4 separate regions of the Homo sapiens genome follow, and all the other regions are linked to region 3. Evidence: fine-mapped expression QTL. A gene starts in region 3. Each other region holds a variant in brackets. All regions are shown on one strand. Distances are from middle to middle.

Region 1 (2,684 bases), 65 kb after region 3:
ATTTCTATTCCTTCCTTGCCCCAATTTTATTTTACAATTTCTTCAATAACTGCCACTTTCCAGTTCTCAAGTATGTTAGCCCATGAGAAAAACAGACTAAGGCCAGGCACAGCTTTCCCTGGTCTCTGTGAAGAGAACAGAAAGAAGAGAAAAAACTCTCGAATCTTCTGCATGCATCTGCCCCCTCCTCTTACCCACCCCCGCCCCCCTCCCCAACACACACACACCCAGAAACCTCCAGACCAGGCTCTCCTAGTCTCCTCAGCAGTGCTAGCTCTGTTATCTTTTTTTTTTTGAGATGGAGTTTCGCTCTTGTTCCCCAGGCTGGAATGCAATGGTGCGATCTTGGCTCACTGCAACCTCCATCTCCCAGGTTCAAGCGATTCTCCTGCCTCAGCCTCCCAAGTAGCTGGGATTACAGGTATGCACCACCACACCAGGCTAATTTTGTAATTTTAGTAGAGATGGGTTTTCTCCATGTTGGTCAGGCTGGTCTTGAACTCCTGACCTCAGGTGATCTGCCCGCCTCGGCCTCCCAAAGTGCTGAGATTACAGGCGTGAGCCACCGCGCCCGGCCCCAGCTCTGTATCTGAACTTGCTCTTGGAACTGGCAACCCAGGGCCTCTCAATCACTAACACTGTAGGGGAATCTTCTCTCCTTGGATCTGCCACGGCTCTGCCTCTAATGCAGGTTTCTCAACAGTGGCATTGTGGATATTTTGTGCTGGCTAATACTTTGTTCGGGGCTGTCCTGTGTGATGTAGGATGCTGAGTGCGTCCTTGGCCTCCACGCACTAGATGCTGGTAGCATCTTCCCCCAAGCTGTGATGGCCAAAAATGTCTCCAGGCACTTACGAATATTCCCTGGGGAAGCAAAATCCCCCTCTCTCACCTCTGTTAACAACTACTTCCCTAATCCTATCTCCCTAATCCTAATTCCCCTACTCACCACCCCCTCTCTTCCCCAACCTCTGTTATAGGGGAGAAAAAAGCTTTCGTAAGCAAATTATAAGTTTTTGAGCAAAAACAAACAAAAGACCT[A/C]CAAAGCAGATGCAGATCTCCCAACCTGCTTCTCTTATGCAAAAACGTTTTGGGGAAATTCAGCAGATTACATTAGATTTATCCAGTTTGACCCCCCAGAATAAGATAAAGAAAAGCAGGTACCAAACACAAAAGTGTCTCATTATAAGACATGGGGAGCATGACCCAGGAGGATAACCAGGTTTGGGTTTGAAGCTTATTCATTATGGGGGCCCTTCCTTAAGATACAAAATTACACACGTAATACTGGACATTAAAGTAAATGTTGACATTGAATGAGAAATCATAATCCATTATAAAGTTTTAAAGATGAGTACTCCAGCGATCTCACCCCCGGGTGACTCTCAGTGAGGCGAAGGGAATACCCCCATGTTTCCATTTCATTTTATAAGACCGTCTAGGCTGGCTGGAGACTGTCCTGCCGGCCTTGGAGAAGCAAGCCACTGTGGTATGAGCTGCCTATGGAGACGGCACATGGCAGGGGCCTGCGGGCAACTTGTAGAATCCGAGCACCTGTGTCCTACACCCACAAGGAACTAAATTCTACCAACAATTAGGGAGCCTGGAAGAGGACCCCCACGCCTCAGAAGAGGTCACAGCCCCAGCTGACACCTTGAGTGGAGTCTTGTGGGACTCTGAGCAGAGGACTCAGCTGAGGCTCCAATTCTGGACCCATGGAAACTATGGAATGACAAATGTATGTTGTTTTAACCTGCTAACTTTGTGATTATTATACAGTAATAAAAAAAACTAATACAAACAGCACTGACATCACAAAATCCAGCAAAATAACAATATTTTTATTAATTAAACTGCCTGACATACCTCTAGAATACCTTCTACTTTTTTGTTTGCTGTATACTTTTTCTTGTCATATGCCAATGATTTTGAAACATTCCTATAGAGAATAAAAAATAATTTAGTCTTTCCTTTAGCATGGTTAATGAAAATGTCTTTTGTTCTGACAGCTTAGAAGAGGTTCTTTCAGCTTCACAACTACATGAGTTTTTTTTTTTTTCTTTTTACTTTAAGTTCTGGGATACATGTGCAGAACATGCAGGTTATGTAGGTATACATGTGCCATGGTGGTTTGCTGCACCTATCGACCCATCATCTAGGTTTTAAGCCCCACATGCATTAGGTATTTGTCCTAATGCTCTCCCTCCCCTTGCCCCCCGCCCCCCAAAAGGCCCCAGCATGTGATGTTCCCCTCCCTGTGTCCATGCGTTCTCATTGTTCAACTCCCACTTATGAGTGAGAATATGTGGTGTCTGGTTTTCTGTTCCTGTGTTTGCTGAGAGTGATGGTTTCCAGCTTCATCGATGTCCCTGCAAAGGACATGAACTCATTCTTTTTTATGGCTGCATAGTATTCCATGGTGTATATGTGCCACATTTTCTTTATCCAGTCTATCTTTGATGGGCATTTGGGTTGGTTCCATGTCTTTGCTATTGTAAATAGTGCTGCAATAAACATACATGTGCATGTGACTACATGGCATTTCTAGTAATGAAAGTTTTGGGATTACTGCCAAATTTAGGAAACCTCTATTGAGCTTCACTGTACAAGCTGTAAGATCTGAAAGACTTTTCTGGCCCAGTTTCTAGCTTCTAGCTCTCACACACTTGTGTCAGGTGCCACAG
Region 2 (2,684 bases), 91 kb after region 3:
TCTCCAAGATTAGACACTGGATTAGTCTGTTCTCATGCTGCTATGAAGAAATATCCGAGACTGGGTAATTTATAAAGGAAAGGGGTTTAATTGACTCACAGTTCCGCAGGGCTGGGGAGGCCTCAGGAAACTTACAATCATGGCAGAAGGAACCACTTCACAGGGCAGCAGGAGAGAGAATGAGTGCCAGCAGGGGAAATGCCAGACGCTTGTAAAACCATCAGATCACGTGAGAACTCACTATCAGGAGAACAGTATGGGAGAAACTGCCCTCATGATTCAATTACCTCCCACCGAGTCCCTCCCACAACGTATGGGGATTATGGGGATTACAATTCAAGGTGAGATTTGGGTAGGGACACAGCCAAACCATATCAGCCACGAATATACTGCTGCTTCCATCTTGATCATTATCATATTCATTCTCTCCCTCTCTCCCCACCCCCGTCAGATCACTTGCTCTGGGGAGAAAAGCTATGTTGTGAAAAGCCCTGTGCATAGGCCCACATGGTGTAGAACTGAGGCCTCCAGCCAACAGCCATGTGAACGTGCCATTTTGGAAACAGATCCTCTGGTCCCAGTCGAGCTTCAGATGACTGCAACCTCAGGAGAGACCATGAGCCAGAAGCACCCAGCCAAGCTGTCCCCAGATTTCAACTTCAGAAACTGTGTGAGATCATAAATGTCTGTTGTTTTAAGCTGCTAAGTTTGGGGAAATTTGTTATGCAGCAACAGAAAACTCATTCAAAAGGTAGGCAAACTTTACAGGCAGCCAGGCACGCAGGACCAAACTACTATATTTCCTTCATCTCATGCCGTATAGCTTGGAACAATGCTATATATAAAAAATGCCCACAAAGCACTGACAAAAGCAACAATGAAAACAATATATTGGTAATTATCAATTAATGGCATTTTTCTTTTCTGCATTTAGATTTCAACTAAAAAACAACTAGCCACCATCACCAAAAACAAAAACAGCCAGGAGAACACTAAGGAAAATTATAAGCAGCTACTTTTTTTAAAGTGACAAACTTGAAATTGAGACCTGGCTAGAATTTTGCAATTGCTTCTAGTAAGCACATATACCGTCCCTCTTTGACACTCACTTCCACATCCTCTTCATCTTTCTTTCCACTGTCACCTATCCAAGACTCAT[C/T]AACCCTCTTGCCTACTGGCCCCTCTGCTTTTTGGAATATCTAAGAATATATGTACACATACACCAATATTTATATTCCTAGGTACCAAAAGAACTGAGGAGCTAAAGGAGACAGCCCATGGTCAAATCTCCAAGGCCACATATTTAACTGGTATGGCTTGGATCAGTGGTCTGTGCCAAGCAGACAGCTGATGCTCAGTAACTGTTAGTTTTTCTCCTCCTTAACTACTCCGCCATGTGATGAAGGAAGAGTTCCTTTTCCTCTGTGCTCGGCTCTCTTTGCGATAACATTCAGAACATACATTCATTTAAAAAAACAAAACGAAAAAAAAACCAAGCGTCTTGCATGTCTAGAGCAGGGGCTGTTTAGCAGTAACTGGAGCCAAGGAAAAGTGGGACTCCTGTATACCATCTGGAGACAAGTTACACTGGAAAACTACAGAGTTCACCTAGATCTCTTCGCACTCTAGTCTTACATTGTCTCCAAATTTAGCTTTCAAGAAAGGTCTCTAATGATGTTTCTAACTTCCATAAGTTACATGAGGGGGGTAAGAATTTAGCAACTAAATGCAAAGAGGCATAGTAGGATTACGTGATTTGGAAGAAAGAATTATCCCTGCCAGACGGGGTGGCTCACACCTGTGATCCCCAGCACTTTGAGAGGCCAAGGTGGTAGGATGGCTTGAGCCCAGCAGTTCGAGACCAGCCTGGGCAACATGGTGAAACCCCATCTCTACAAAAAATACAAAAATTAGCTTGGCATGGTGGTGCAAGACTGTACCAAGCTACTCGGGAGGCTGAGGTGGGAGACTCACCTGAGCCTGGGAGGTGGGGGCTGCAGTGAGCGGTGATCACACCACTCCACTCCAGCCTGGGAAATAGCGCAAGACTCTGCCCCCAAAAACAAACAAAAAAAGGATTATCTCAATTCTCAGGCTTAAAATTTTTCATGGAATCTCAAGCCATCTTCAGTCAAGGCAAGAATTTAGAACTTTTCTACCCTCATCTTCTACCAAAATCTCTTCATATGCCGTGGAAGACTCTAAATCCTGTTTATCCTTATGGTCTAGGTCCCAAGTTCCCAAAAGATATCTAATAACTTACACTATTTTCCACACACAATCCTGGGAAAATGTTCTATTCCTCGGGCAGAGGGAAATCTGGCTGAGATCTCCGATAAGAGTGCTGTTTCCAATGGGAAGCAATGTGAATGGGCAAGGAAGGAAAGCCCCAGATGTGGTCAGAATAAAGCAGACCGGCTGACAACTAAAGCCACGCACAAAGGATATGTCTCCCTGGCCTTCTTCTCCCCCGCTCCTATTTCGTTTAATCCTAACAATTAGGATAACTATCATCACCCTTCTACAGTTGCTGACTCTGGAGCTCAGAGGGGGAAAGATCGTGCTCCACATCACAACACCGGTAAACTCTCAGAACCTGCATCAAACCCAGGTCTTCAAACTCACCCCTCCTGTTTTTCCCAATATGCAGTGCTACCTTTCATGGTCGGCCCATTTCTGGGAAC
Region 3 (2,684 bases):
GCTGTCCCCGAACCGCGGCTTTCTCTGTGTAAATGATGGACCTGTTGAGAAGCCTGCCTTCCGCCCGATTCCGGTGCCCACACAATCGGAAGAGAGGTTGCCTAGCTCTCCCCAGCGAGGCTTCAGCAATCCTGGCAAGCCCACGCCGCCGGTGATGGAAGCGGCCCCAGGGGCCTCTCACGCAGGCACACACACACACAGACACACACACAGATACACACACACTCTCTCTCTCCTCCGGCCCACGTATATCAACAAGCACACACATCTCCATCCACACTGCTAAGCCTACACTCCGATCGTGGGAAACAAAAACATTAAGCAATCACCAAGCAAGTGCCCGCAGAGCCAGGGCCGCGCGCATCTGCCGGGAGGGGGACGCGCGCCCAGAGGCGCTGGGGCCCGATTCCGGAGAGCAGGGGTGGAGGGCCAGGCGATCGGCGGCGGGGGGTTGAGGCAGCAGGCAAGGGTCTGCGGCCTGGGGGAAGAGGACTGCAACCCGGGCGGAGCGCGCAGGGCCACGGCCGAAGGAGCTCTGCCGGGAGTCCAGGCTGCCCCAGGGCGCGCGGGCTGCGGTGGCGGCGGTGGCAGCCGGAGCTAGCAAGGAGAGGGAGAGCGGGAGCGAGCGGGGACCGCGGCAGACAGCCGGAGGGCCGGACCCACCTGTCTCGGCGAAGCTGATGATTTCGGAAACGCGCTCCTGGCCGTCGGCGCCCGGGCTGGCGTGGCCGTCGAGGTGCGGGATCTCCACGCGGCCGTCCTCGCGCACCTTGCCCGCGTGCAGCTTGCGCAGGGCCGTGACCATGGCGGCCTTAGGCACGGCGTGCGTGATGTTGGGCCGGCCCCGCATCTGCAGGCGGCTCAAGATGTGCCGCTTCACCGCCTCCAGGAAGTCGCCGTCCACTCGGCCGAGCTCCTCTGGCCGCCGGAAGCCGCCGCACGACGTACAGGTGTCCTGCGAGCCACCCGGGGATCCGGGTGGCGGGGGTGGCGGCGGCGCGGCAGGCGTCGGCGGGGGCGTGGGTGAGCCCCAGGCCTCAGGCCCCAGCCAGCCGGCCGCCAGCAGCAGAAGGCAGGCGGCCCCCAGCGCCCGACCGGGCAGCCCGTCCATGGTGCGCCGCTGGCGACGAGGGCGCCCGCCGCGAGGCGAGCCGAGTCGAGCCGAGCGCAGGGCCGGGCTCCGGGCTCCGGGCGCGCCGCCCCGCCCCGCCCCCGCCCGCGCCCGCGCCCGCCCGGGCCTCCGCCCGCCCGCCCGCCGGGAGGGCTGCCGCCGGCTCGCAGGGGGAGGGGGCCGGCCGGGCCTCGGGGGTTCCCGCGCGGCAGGGAAGGGGCGCCGAGGGCCCCGGGGGCCCGAGGGGCGCGCCGGGCGGGGCGGAGGTCGCGGGTCACTGCCGCACGGGCGTCTCGGGGCGCCTCGGCATCTGCAGCCTTCTCCCCATCCTTTCCGCGTCGGGGGCCCCGCAGCCCCGGTTCGGGTGAAGCGAAAGCAGCGTCAGTGGGAGCGGCGGTTCGGCCGGCGGCTGGGGAAGGTGGCGAAAGAGCGGGTCCACGCAACTTGGCTGAGACGGAAGCGAAGGCGCTGGAGCCCCCCGGAGCGGAGCCGGGCGCGGCTTGGCGCGGCGCTGCGGCGGGCGCTGCGGCGGGGCCCCGCGCTCGCACCTGAGCGCCTCGCCCTCACTGCCTCGCGCCAGGAAGGGCCGCCGGCGGCGGAGACGGGCAGGTCGTCCTCGCCGCGGGCCGGCGGGCAGTGGCGCGGAGCAAGCTTGGTGCCCGGGAGAGCCGGCCGCGCGGGCCCGCTCACAGGCGGCGCCGAGCCCTCGGCCGCGGGCCCTGCAGTCCTCCCGGCGCGTCACACGGCAAAGTTGTCTCCAGGATCCCTGGGCGCCGCATCCACGGGCGGGCGGCCGCAGCGCGCTTCGCCGGGGCCTCTGCTCCGCCCGCCTCCTCGCAGCCTCCCTCCTTCCCTCCGCCTGCCTGCGCGGCCCGGCCGGGCGCGGGGCGCCGGGCGAGGAAGGCGAGGGGGAGGCAGGGCCCTTCTCGCTCCTGTCTCTTCTGCCTGCCGCGGCGGCGGCGAGGTCGGCTCGAGCGCCGAAAAGTCTCGCAGCGTCCCCGGGTGCAGTGCCCTCGCTCGCGCTCGTACTGGCACCCGCCGCAGGGCCGGGAGAGAGCGGGCGGGCGGCGGCGGCGTCCCCGCGCCGGGCCGCGGCACGGAGTGCGGAGCTCGCCGAGGAGGAGTTCTTCTCTTTGGTCTCTCTTCTTTTACTCTCCCCGTTTTTTCTCCCAAGGGGGAAAAAAGCCGCACAATCTCCGTATGTGCGCGCGCGTTGAGATAGACGTTGGCAGAAAAAAGGGGGGGAGGGAGGGTGTCGTCCTGCCCGTGCGAGAGGAGACGGTCCGTACCTCCCCGCTCGAGCTTCCCGGGGTGGGGGGAGGAGGAGAAAGCGGAATCTGTTCAGGTTGGGGCTGCCCGCTCCCCGCGCTCACCCCTGCTTCCCACCGCTTTTTTCCTTTCTGCCTTCCCGAGAAGGAGGGGCGAGCCGGCCCTCTCCCCTCCCCTCCTCTCCCCTCCCACCCCCCGCAATGCCGGGCTACTTTTGCTACCTCGAAACTTTCCCACCACGTGGGCGCCCCGGACCCTTGCCCAGCTGGGCGGCCGGCGGCACCGACGGGTTCCAGGCGCTGGA
Region 4 (2,684 bases), 240 kb before region 3:
AGGGGCCCACCTGGGTCCCCCAGCAGGGTGGTGGTGGTGCTGGAAACAAGATGGACTCTTTCTGACTCCCTTGGTGGTGGTAATGGTGGGTGGCAGGACCTGGGCTGGGGTCACTGGGTCAAACTAGTGTCACCTGGCCCCTGGGAGCTACCTATCTGAAGCAGCTCCAGAAACTTAAATTTGCTAATTAATTTATAATTCCAGCCCTAAGCCATAAAATCAAACCACACACTGAGCTGTCCACAGTTGCCTGACAGCTGGCCTGTCTGATCCTGGCTGTCTGCTCACAAATTGGTATTAGTGGCACCAAGAGCAGATTAACATGGTGACCAGGCACCCAGAAACTTGATGCCACCCGCTGGGCTCACTAAAGCTGTCAGTCTCCCCAGCTGCTAAGCTGCCCAGGCACCCATGTCTCCCCAAGCTTGGGTTGCAGAGCAGTCCTGGGCCCAGCAAGGAGTAGGACCTTTCTCAGCCATCAAGTGATGCCACTGGTCAAATATAAGTTACAGGAGAGAAAAGCAGGGAGGCATTGCCAGGAAAGCAGTATTCAAATTTCAGAGTTTGCACAGGGCTTGAGAATCAGTGGGGACCATGGGCATTCATCATCCTAGCCAAAGCCCACACTGCAGAGCCAGAGAACTGAGCCCAGAGAGGAAAGAGCTGCGGTGGTGTCATCCGGTACAGGACTATAGCTCGGGCTCCCTCCCCGACAACCTAATGCTCTACCTGTTCCTCTGAGTGAGAATGCCGCTTTCCCATCATCTCTGCCAACCTGCGTTTTTCTTTTATGTATTTGTTCACCTCATCAACTCCTACCTCCTGAGCACCTACTACTGTGCCAGACACTGTACAAGGCCCTAGGATACAGGAAGCAATCATTGTGGGAAGAACTAGAAATATGAAGAGTCATTCTTGAGGTTAGTATGATATACATTAGTGAACAAAGGAAGGGAGGGCGGGAAAACATCCCAGACAGGATGAGCCACGACATGGGTTGCATTAGATAGGGTTGGAAAACACCACGGTACAGTGGTGTAAGCAAGGCATTTTCCCTCCTGTAAAATTCCAGGGCCAATATGATCACTCTGACCTGCAAAAGCCTTGGACACCCATGCTCCTTCTACCCACTACGTCTCTGGTCCTCATGGGTCAAGATGGTAACCAGGGCTCTAGCCATCAGGTCCGCACTCCAGGCAGCAGGATGAGAAGGACAAAGAAGAAGTGGGAAAATATATGTTCCCAGAAACACTTGTATAAGAACACTTAATGTCAAGAACTATAAAGGGTCTGAAATTTTACTCAACTTGAAAGGTAATGAGTTAGGCTCTTGAGAGGCTGGCAGAAGATG[C/G]CAGAACCATGAGTCAGAGACAAAGGATGTTATTCCTCACAGCACAGCAAACAGCATGTGTATCAGCATATTTGCGTCAGTTCCTTTTGCCCCAAGTCCCACAGAACAATGTGAGTGGGCCCAGATGGATCCTGTACTTGCAGTGAATTGCATTACAGGAGAGGAACCCTGAGCTTAGGGAACCTGGATCTTTTACAATGGGAAGCAAGCGTGCTTGCCCTTTGCTCCAGAGGGAGACGCTTGATCTTCCAAAGCTGTCTGCAATACAAACACCCATGAAAAGATAGGTCAATCAGTGCCTTACTCATAAGATGTGTAGAAATGCGAGAGACTCATGGGGAATTGTCTCCCAATATACAGCAGCTTTATTCATAATAGCTCCAAACTGGAAAGAGCCCAGACGTTCATCAACAGGAGAAGAGATATATTTATGCAATGGACCATATTTGTGCAATAGCCATCTTAATGGGTGTGAAATGGTATCTCATTGTGGTTTTGATTTGCGTTTCCCTAAAGATGGGTGATGGGTGTCTTTTCACGTGCTTGCTGGCCATTTGTATATCTTCTTTGGAGAAATGCCTAAGTCCTTTGCCCCATTTTTTAATCAGGTTGTGTTGTTGTGTTAATTATAGAAGGTTTTAACCAGGGTGGTAACTTAGATTTACGTGTTTGGAAGATTCCTGTGGTGCCCTATCTGGAGTGTGAATTGAAGGCAAGAGTGAGAGTAGCATGATCAGGGCGGAAGCCGCTGCAATGATCCAAAGATGATTGATAGTCTTCACCAAAAGAGAACCACAGAAATGGAAAGGAAGGGATTGGGGAGAGAGGCATTAAGGAGCAAGAATGGGCAGGCTTGATGAGCGCATGGCAAGGGTGGGGAGAGAGGGGAAAAGTCAGGGCTGTCCAGGCAGTTGACTGACGACCAAGTACATCACCATAGAGAGGGCATCCTATAGGAAAAATTTGCAAACCCTCCTCTGGTAACCCCTGTCCCCATGAACTCCTACAGAAGCAGCTGCACGGGACCAGCATCTTCAACTTTTCCTGTTTGGTGATTTTGCTAAAATATCTCACCTAGCTCTGAGCACTCCCTGTTCACCTACCTCTCCCTCCCATCCCTCCATCACGTCTGGACACCTGATGCCCCTTATCTCTTGGCCCCAGTGCACGTGGGTTATCCAAATCTTCAGTTCCAGGCTCATGTCTGTCCTCACAGATTGACAACCTTCAGAAATGTCTCCAGCTTTTGGACCCTGGCTCCCTGGACTGCTCTTGACTTTGCCTGCTGCCCAGGTTTGGGGTCTACTTGCGTAGTGGGTATCGATTGGGGTGG

Direction of the effects. Alleles are on the strand shown, and positions count from the first base shown. SD is a standard deviation of normalised expression in the study named. Not every link is listed here.
For the expression in subcutaneous fat of the gene that starts at base 1,164 in region 3, C is the high allele of the variant in region 4 and G is the other (small effect, 0.25 SD a copy in GTEx).

What was found.
Region 1: its variant is fine-mapped to the expression of INHBB in whole blood (INTERVAL, PIP 0.92).
Region 2: its variant is fine-mapped to the expression of INHBB in whole blood (TOPMed, PIP 0.92).
Region 4: its variant is fine-mapped to the expression of INHBB in subcutaneous fat (GTEx, PIP above 0.99). The same link has a PIP of 0.9 or more in breast, ileum, lung and skeletal muscle.

What each region holds. Positions count from the first base shown.
Region 1 is chr2:120,280,090-120,282,773 of GRCh38, reverse strand. The region is part of intron 2 of RALB (RAS like proto-oncogene B); the gene reads right to left. Among named protein-coding and RNA genes, the nearest start is that of RALB, 29 kb to the right of the region's middle. The variant A/C (reference allele first, on the strand shown) is at 1,042.
Region 2 is chr2:120,254,069-120,256,752 of GRCh38, reverse strand. The region is part of intron 1 of RALB (RAS like proto-oncogene B); the gene reads right to left. Among named protein-coding and RNA genes, the nearest start is that of RALB, 2.6 kb to the right of the region's middle. The variant C/T (reference allele first, on the strand shown) is at 1,160.
Region 3 is chr2:120,344,616-120,347,299 of GRCh38, reverse strand. INHBB (inhibin subunit beta B) reads right to left here and starts at 1,164. Exons shown (of 2, transcript NM_002193.4): 1 at 664-1,164. The coding sequence starts at 1,111. LOC105373989 (putative cuticle collagen 91) reads right to left here. Exons shown (of 3, transcript XM_047446882.1): 3 at 1,307-2,413. The coding sequence ends at 1,386.
Region 4 is chr2:120,588,704-120,591,387 of GRCh38, reverse strand. No RefSeq gene overlaps it. Among named protein-coding and RNA genes, the nearest start is that of LINC01101, 120 kb to the right of the region's middle. RefSeq lists an enhancer at 2,371-2,684. The variant C/G (reference allele first, on the strand shown) is at 1,352.